Linked DNA regions of Homo sapiens. The protein of the gene in region 1 interacts with the protein of each later gene in a pairwise test. Each region holds a gene or a part of one and is shown on either strand. Other genes may lie near its edges. The genes, in order: MPG and HSD17B14.

Region 1 (3,904 bases):
GGCAGGGGCCAATCTGCTCTCCAAGTGATTCTCTTTCCTCATAAGAAAGGTGGGGATAAAAACACCCCTCTGGGAGCCTCTGGACTCCCCGTGAGTTCTGCAAGGACCATGTATCACTTGTAACATCAGAATAAATATAAGTACAAAGTAACACCCATCCTCTCCCTGCCCATCAAGAGGACAAAGGCTCAACTGGGGCCTCAGTTTCCCTACTAGACTGAGGGGGAGCACTCGGGGGGATGGGGGGCTGTTCCCACAGGAAGGAGAGACTCATTGTTTGGGAGGCATGGCTGCAGATAAGCAGGGAGGGTGTGGAATCACATCCAGGGCTGCTTTATAAACACGGATTGATGACACATTATGCCCCCACCCCGGGAAGCGGCACACAGTGCTACAAACAGCTGGTGGCTTCCAGCCGGCTGATGGCCCCTCCCTCCCCAGGAAGTCCTGGCTGGGGCCCATGGGGGTGGGACGGCTGGTCAGAGGAGGAGAGGCAGTTGGAGACCAGGTCCTGCCCTGTTAGCCTTTCTGTAGGACCAGGTGTCACACTCATCTGAGGGCTCCAGACACATGGCCTGTGCGTCTGTCCTGCCCAGCGTCTCCCACCTGACGCGGCCAGGTGCCCAGTTGCTCTTCAAGGCCTTTTCAGGTGCTCCTTTCCAGGACCAGGGTCACAGAAGTCAAAGCTCAGGAAAAGCCCCTCGAGGGTTTTTGTGCGGCAGAGGTGGGTTGTGGGGTGGGATTGTGCCTGCCACAGTGGAGGGGCCCTGCAGACCCAGATAAACCTTCAAGTGGCCAGAAGCGGGGGATGGCTCTGCTGGGTGCTGGGGCTGCCATGGGCCGTGGGAGCCAGCAGTGTGCCCAGCTCCCTCAGGGCCCGTCCCCTAGGCCCTTCCGTCCACTGGGCCAAGCACCGTCCCTGCCCCTCCCTAGGGGCATGGATCTGACTTGAGAGGTTGTGAGAGCTTACAGGCGCTGGGCCGTCGGGGAGGCCTCAGAAGCGTAGGACGGCTGCGCACTGCCGGGCCGTGTTCAGCCCTGGTCTGGCCTCGGCCTCTAGAGGAGGCTGCCTGCGCTCCAGCAGGCCCAACCCAGAACGTGGGCGAGCTCCCTTCAGCATCCCTGGGCGGAAAGAGGGATGGGGGCTCTGCTGCAGAGGCAGAATCCGCGCCGCTCCCTCCTTCCTTCCCCCGACCAGCCTGTGACAACCCCGGCCAGGGGCGGGGGCCTCCGCACAAGCCTGGCGTCCACTTCCTGGATAAGGACTCCCCGGCCCACTCCGGACCAGGGCTGGGGCGGCCTCCCAGGCGCTCACTCCGCTGGCACCCCACCGGAAAACACGTCTGCGGCCCGCCCCCTCCCCCAAAGCACGACCACTCCGCCCGGGCCCCTCGAGGATCCACTCAGGTTCACGACGGGCCCGTCCTCTCGGTGGTCTGACCACCGGCTGGTGGAGTGGGCTCTGGGGCCGCCAGGCGACCAGGGCGCAGGCGGGGGCGGACAGCTCATTGGGAGGGGCGCCGGGGCACAGTGCGGGGCTCGCCCCACCCCCAGGTGCCCCTTCCCCGCTCTCGCCTCGCAGGCACCGCATCGGGCCCGGGAATCGGTCCGGACCTGGCGGTGGGCGCTGGGAAGAGGATCCACCTCCACGTGGCCCGCCCCGCCCCGGGGGCGCAGCCAGTTCCCGGCGCTCACTGCCCCCCTTCTCCCGGCTTCCGTCCCCTTCTGCGCAGGCGCCGCTCCGCCCCGGTCCTAGGGGTGCTTCCGTGGTCGGCGGCTGCTGGGCTCCGCGCCGGGGTCCGAGTCCCACGAAGCCCCGGCCCGAGCCGCCGGATGCCCGCGCGCAGCGGGGCCCAGGTGAGCGCGCGCCTCGGCCGCCCCGCGGAACAGACGCGCCCACCCCCAGGCGCAGCAGCGAGCGCGGCCGCGGGAGCGGGAGTGCCGGGGACGGGCGTAGCGCCCACCGCCCCGAGGGTTCGGGGCAGAGCCAGAGCATAGGCCAAGGGCCAAGCTCGGGCCGAGAGCAGTGGCCGCAGCGCCCGGGGGCTGAACCCACGGCGCGCTGGCAGCGCGGGCCGAGCTGCGGAGACGGTCACGTCAGCGTCCGTTCCAGGCCGACTGGCAGTCTCCGTTCTACATTAACGTCAGCACTCCCGTTAAAAATAATGCATCTCTCCCATGCCAGGAGGACTTAGGTGCTGCTAAAGACCAGCCCTCCGGGTGCTGCCAGGCCGGCGCTCACCCGCCACCTTCATCTTCCCTTCTCCTTTGCCCCAGGACAGCCGAGGATGTGTGGTTAGGTTCCCCCTACCCATGGGGAGGCCAGAGGTGGGAGGCTGGCGGCCTGCTCGGTCTCAGCAGACCCTCCTAGTCCCTCAGGAGACCTTGCCTTTGCCCCACTTGCTCGTTATCCAGCCTGGGCCATGAAGCAGAGGACAGTTAGGGACCCTGAGCACGCGGTGGTCACCCCGGTGCTCACCCCTCCCTGTGTGTCCGACCTTGGCCCTGCTAAGATCCTGTGTTTTGAATTCTGGCAAGGGTTGGATGAAAGGGCAGGGCTCCAGAAACCAGCTCAGACGTTTGCTTGGGACCTGCATGATGAGTGGGAATCGGAGGGCACCAGCCCTGCTGTCCCAGGCTCAGGCCCCCATCTGCTCCCCAGGTCATGCAGCCTGGGCCCCCATGCCGTGCAGCTCGCACATATGTGGGGCAGAGCAGCCACCCTGCCCCCAGCAGCAGCCGTCCATCGTCAGACGTGATCATTTCCTGAGGCCTCGAGTGTGTCAGGGTGTTTGTGCCTCATAACAACCCACAGGATGGTCACCCCCGCTTTGCAGATGAAGAAACCAAAGCAGGTGGTCAGATCCAGTCCTTGCACTTCCTGAGCCTGACCTTACCACACAGCTGTCTCCTATTCGGATGCTTATTTATTTTTTTTCCCATTACAGTTTTGCCGACGGATGGGGCAAAAGAAGCAGCGACCAGCTAGAGCAGGGCAGCCACACAGCTCGTCCGACGCAGCCCAGGCACCTGCAGAGCAGCCACACAGCTCGTCCGATGCAGCCCAGGCACCTTGCCCCAGGGAGCGCTGCTTGGGACCGCCCACCACTCCGGGCCCATACCGCAGCATCTATTTCTCAAGCCCAAAGGGCCACCTTACCCGACTGGGGTTGGAGTTCTTCGACCAGCCGGCAGTCCCCCTGGCCCGGGCATTTCTGGGACAGGTAATGTGAACATAGCAGCGAGGGCCCTCCTGAAGTGCCTGTCACTGCAGTTGTCCCTGAACCCCTGTCCGCTGCCTGCTGGATTGGCCCTCAGTTAGTCCTCCTTGTCCTCATGCATTTAGCGGCTTTGCTCACACTGGTCCCTGCTTAGCTTCATCTCAGTTGCCTGAGGTCATCTGGGAAGAATGTAGAGATTGTCAGTGCTGCTTGCCCAGGGTGGAGCAGGGGTGCCACTGTCTGCCCCCGGCTCTGGGCATCTAGGGCAGGAGCACTTGCACCGTTAGCCTTCCTCACCGGCAATCCACCTCAGTTTTTCCACACGTGGGAACTGTGGCTGTGGCCAGTGTCGGGCTGCCCCTTCCCGCTGTAGTGGCTCACAGTGCAGTGCTGGCTTCCCAGGGCCCCTGCAGCTTAATGTAGGTCAAGGATCTGGGCTCTGCCAATCAGACTTGGAGTAAGAAGCAGGGACTGCCCAGGTCCCATCCTGGTGGGGCCTACGGTGCAGCCTGTCCCCACGAGCAGATGCTCACACAGCCGTGGCATCTTGGCTGGATCTGTTGGGAGCGAGGTGGTGGCGGTGGTCCTCGATGCCAAAGCCCCAGGCCTGCCTTTCTGGTTCTCCAGAGGCTCCAAGGCCTTCCCTTTGTCCTTTAATGAGCCTACTTTTAGGTTATAATCAC
Region 2 (3,904 bases), on another chromosome or scaffold:
AGTCCTGGGCAGCCAGGTCTTCCTAAACAGAGACATGAGTTCAGAAGAGTGTGTTTTGCTTTATGAGGGGGATGGGTGTGGTTCTGGGAGAGTGTGACCTGGAGGCTGGCCCGTTCAGGGAATGTAGCCAAACTTCCTGGAAGTAATGAAATCTGAGCAGCATTGACCAGTGGAGGAGGTGGAGAAAGAGATGGCAGGGCGAGGGCCTGGCAGCGAGACAGGGTTTGGTGCTGCTGCCAGCTGGGCCCAGTGAGAGAACGGGATGTTGCAAGAAGAGATTGGGGTGGGAACCAGATCAGGCAGGGCCTTGAAGGGCATGCTGAATCATCTGGTCTTTATGTCAAGAGCAATAGGGAGCTGTGGCAGGTATTTGAGCAAGGGAGTGATGTGATCCTGTTAGTATTATTAACAGATCATAGGCTCTGGCTCCTGTAGGTATGAGGGACAAATCTGAGGGTTAAGCGTGAGAGTGGGAGAACCAGTATTAGGAGTTGATTGCATTTGAGCTGGGCATGGTGGCTCACGCCTGTAATCCCAGCACTTTGGGAGGCCGAGGTGGGCAGGTTGCCTGAGGTCAGGAGTTCGAAACCAGTCTGGCCAACATGGAGAAACCCCGTTGCTACTAAAAATACAAAAATTAGCCAGGCGTGGTGGTAGGCGCCCGTAATCCCAGCTACTCGGGAGGCTGAGGCAGAAGAATTGCTTGAACCTGGGAGGTGGAGGTTGCAGTGAGCCGAGATCGTGCCACTGCACTCAAGCCTGGGTGACAGAGCAATACTCTGTCTCTGAAACAAACAAACAAAAAAAGGAGTTGATTGCATTTGTCCAAGGGAGAAGTGGGGGCCTTCAAGGCCTCGTGATCTGGCCCCTGTTCTTCTCTGACCTCACCTCCGGCCACACTGGCCTCATTGCTCCCAAACACAACAGGCCTGCTCCTGTCTCAGAACCTTGGCACTTAAGAACTGGGGTCTCAGTATGTTGCCCAGGCTGGCCTTGAACTTCTGGACTGAAGCGATCCTCCCACCTCAGTCTCCCAAAGCACTGACATTACAGGTACCTGCCACTGCACCTGGCCCCCAGCGGGTCCTTGATATAGAGCAGGTGCTTAGCAACCTTGAGGGGTGTGGGGAGAAGGACACTCAGGGAGTGTGGGACAAATATTTACTGAGCTCCAGCTGTGTGCCTCGTGCTGGGGTGAGGGTGGCAAGATCCGTGTCTCAGCCCTGGTGAGACTCATGTTTGCAGGGTCAGGTGGGGGAGGAGATTAAACAGCAGGGCAGGTGCACAGACTGAGAGAGAAATGGAGCAAGGCAGGTGGGGTGGGCACTGGGAGGGAGGGAGGGTGTCACGGCTGGTGGGAGTGAGAGGAGGCGAGGATGAGAGGTTCCCTGAGGAGGAGGGCAGAGGCTGGTCAATGCCCACATCATTCACGTTCATATTAGAGCATGGTTTCTCTTTTTCTTTTTTCTTTTTTCTTTTTTTTTGAGACAGTCTTTATCTGCTGCCCAGGCTGGAGTGCAGTGGTGCGATTGTGGCTTACTGCAACCTCTGCCTCCCGGGATCAAGAGATTCTCCTGCCTCAGCCTCCCGAGTAGCTGGGATTACAGGCACGCACCACCACACCCGGCTAATTTTTGTATTTTTAGTAGAGATGGGGTTTTGCCATGTTGACCAGTCTGGTCTTGAACTCCTGACCTCAGGTGACTGCCCGCCTCAGCCTCCCAAAGTTCTAGGATTACAGGTGTGAGCCACTGTGCCTGGCCTAAAGTTCTTAATACTTAGAATTGTGAGAAATTGTTGTTTGTTTATGGGTTTGGGTCTCAGCCTGTCCAGCAGCAAATGCTGGTGCTGTCAGGTGTCACGTGATGCCCTGCGGGCGTCAATCATCCCTCCATTCCTTAGTCTCCTCGCTTGTGAAATGGGACTCTCAGCTGTACCTCCTTCTTGTAGGTACAGGAGAATGTTAGAGGGATGAAATGAGCTAATCCATGTAAATTGCTGAGGACAGGGCTGGACACATACCAGGTCCTCCATTCATTCATTAATTCACCCATTCATTCATTCAAAGGATATTTATGAAGCATGTGCTATGTGCCAGGCACCTTTAGTGCTGGGGAAGAAACAAAATAAGAAATCTTGACCATCCCTCATAGGTTTCTGCATGCTGGTGGGAGAGACAGAACATGAACAAACAAGTAAAATATATATGGCCTGTCAGAAGGGAGTGTGTGACACAGAGAAAAGACATCTGAAAGAGGGAAGGGGACCCAGGGGTGTGGGAACTGCAGTTTTATTTTATTATTTTATTTTTTGGGGCCAGGCGTGGTGGCTGACGCCTGTAATCCCAGCACTTTGGGAGGCCGAAGCAGGCAGATTACTTGACCTCAGGAGTTCAAGACCAGCCTGGCTAACATGGTGAAACCCCATCTCTACTAAAAAATACAAAAATTAGCCAGGCATGGTGACACATGCCTGTAGTCCCAGCTACTCAGGAGACTGAGGCAGGAGAAGGGCTTGAACCTGGGGGGAGGAGGTTGCAGTGAGCCAAGATGACATCACTGCACTCCAGCCTGGGCAACAGAGTGAGACTCTGTCTCAAAAAATAAAACAAAAAATATTTTTTTGTTGTTAAAAAAAATAAAGACAGGCCAGGCACAGTGGCTCAAGCCTGGAATCCCAGCACTTTGGGAGGCCGAGCCAGGCAGATCATGTGAGATCAGGAGTTCGAGACCAGCCTGGCTAATATAGTGAAACCCTGTCTCCACTAAAAAAAAAAAAAAAAAAAAAAAATTATCCTGGTGTGGGGGCACATGCCTGTAGTCCCAGCTACTCGGGAAGCCGAGGCAGGAGAATTGCTTGAACCTGGGAAGTGGAGGTTGCAATGAGCTGAGATTGCACCACTGCATTCCAGCCTAGACAACAGAGTGATACCCTATCTGAAAGAAAGAGAGAGAGAGAGAGAAAGAAAAGAAAGAAAGAAAGAAAGAAAGAAAGAAAGAAAGAAAGAAAGAAAAAGGGTCTTGCTAAGCTGCCCATGCTGGCCTCAAACACCTGGGTTCAAGCAATCCTCCCTCCTCGGCTTCCCAAAGTGCAAGGATTACAGGTGTGAGCTAGTGATCCTGGCTTGCAGCTTTAAACAGTATAGCCAGGGAAGACCTCACTGAGGAGGTGACCTCGGATCAGGGTTTGAGGGAGCTGAGGGAGTGTTTACCCAGGAAAGTCCCCGTTTAGCATTGACACTGTGGACTGAAAATACCATGTCCCCAAAAACCCTTCAGTCCTGGGCAAACTGGGATGGCTGGCCACCCTAAGAGTGGGTCATGTGGCTCTCTTAGGAAAAGGCACTCCAGGCAGAGGGAACAGCAAGTTCAAAGGCCCTGAGGTTTGAACACGCAGGGTGTGTCGAAGATACAGCACGGAAAAGGGTGGAGGTCGTTTGGGAGGGGAGCAGAAATGGCTTGAAAGAGTTGGTGGGGGGAACCGGGCAGGGAGCTCATTTAGATTCCCACTCGGAGAGCCTGCTAGGGGTGCTGCCTTGTACCAATTAGTCTTAAGTGGCAGGGACAGGCCTTGCCTGGCCAGCTCAGCTTTCTAAGGCAAGCGAGATCAAAGATAGAATTTGAGTTTATCCAAGGTCATGTGTAGTCAACGAACACACACGCACACACACAGAGAGAGTATTTAGGGACTTCCCAGGTGGCCAGGGAGTTGAATTGCAGGAGAAACGGTGGCAGGAAACAGTGCATTTCTTTTTTTTTTTTTTTTTTTTTCTGAAACGGAGTCTTGCTCTGTTGCCCAGGCTCGAGTGCAGTAGCGCAATCTTGGCTCACTGCAACCTCCACCTCCCGGGTTCAAGTAGTTCTCCTGCCTCAGCCTCCCAAGTAGCTGAGATTACAGGAATGCA

Evidence for each region.
Region 2: the proteins of MPG (region 1) and HSD17B14 interact in binary tests that used the Homo sapiens proteins (3 or more experiments, as listed by UniProt).

What each region holds. Positions count from the first base shown.
Region 1 is NC_000016.10:76,477-80,380, forward strand, and holds the start of MPG (DNA-3-methyladenine glycosylase), read left to right. Parts: upstream 1-1,748; 5' UTR 1,749-1,833; coding exon 1,834-1,857; intron 1,858-2,662; exon of another isoform or gene 2,663-2,816; coding exon of another isoform or gene 2,817-2,855; intron 2,856-2,948; coding exon 2,949-3,224; intron 3,225-3,904. UniProt on the Homo sapiens protein: Hydrolysis of the deoxyribose N-glycosidic bond to excise 3-methyladenine, and 7-methylguanine from the damaged DNA polymer formed by alkylation lesions.
Region 2 is NC_000019.10:48,815,889-48,819,792, reverse strand, and holds part of HSD17B14 (L-fucose dehydrogenase), read left to right. Parts: intron 1-3,904. UniProt on the Homo sapiens protein: Catalyzes the NAD(+)-dependent oxidation of L-fucose, yielding L-fucono-1,5-lactone, which rapidly converts spontaneously to L-fucone-1,4-lactone. Can also act on D-arabinose and L-galactose, with lower catalytic efficiency. Does not use NADPH.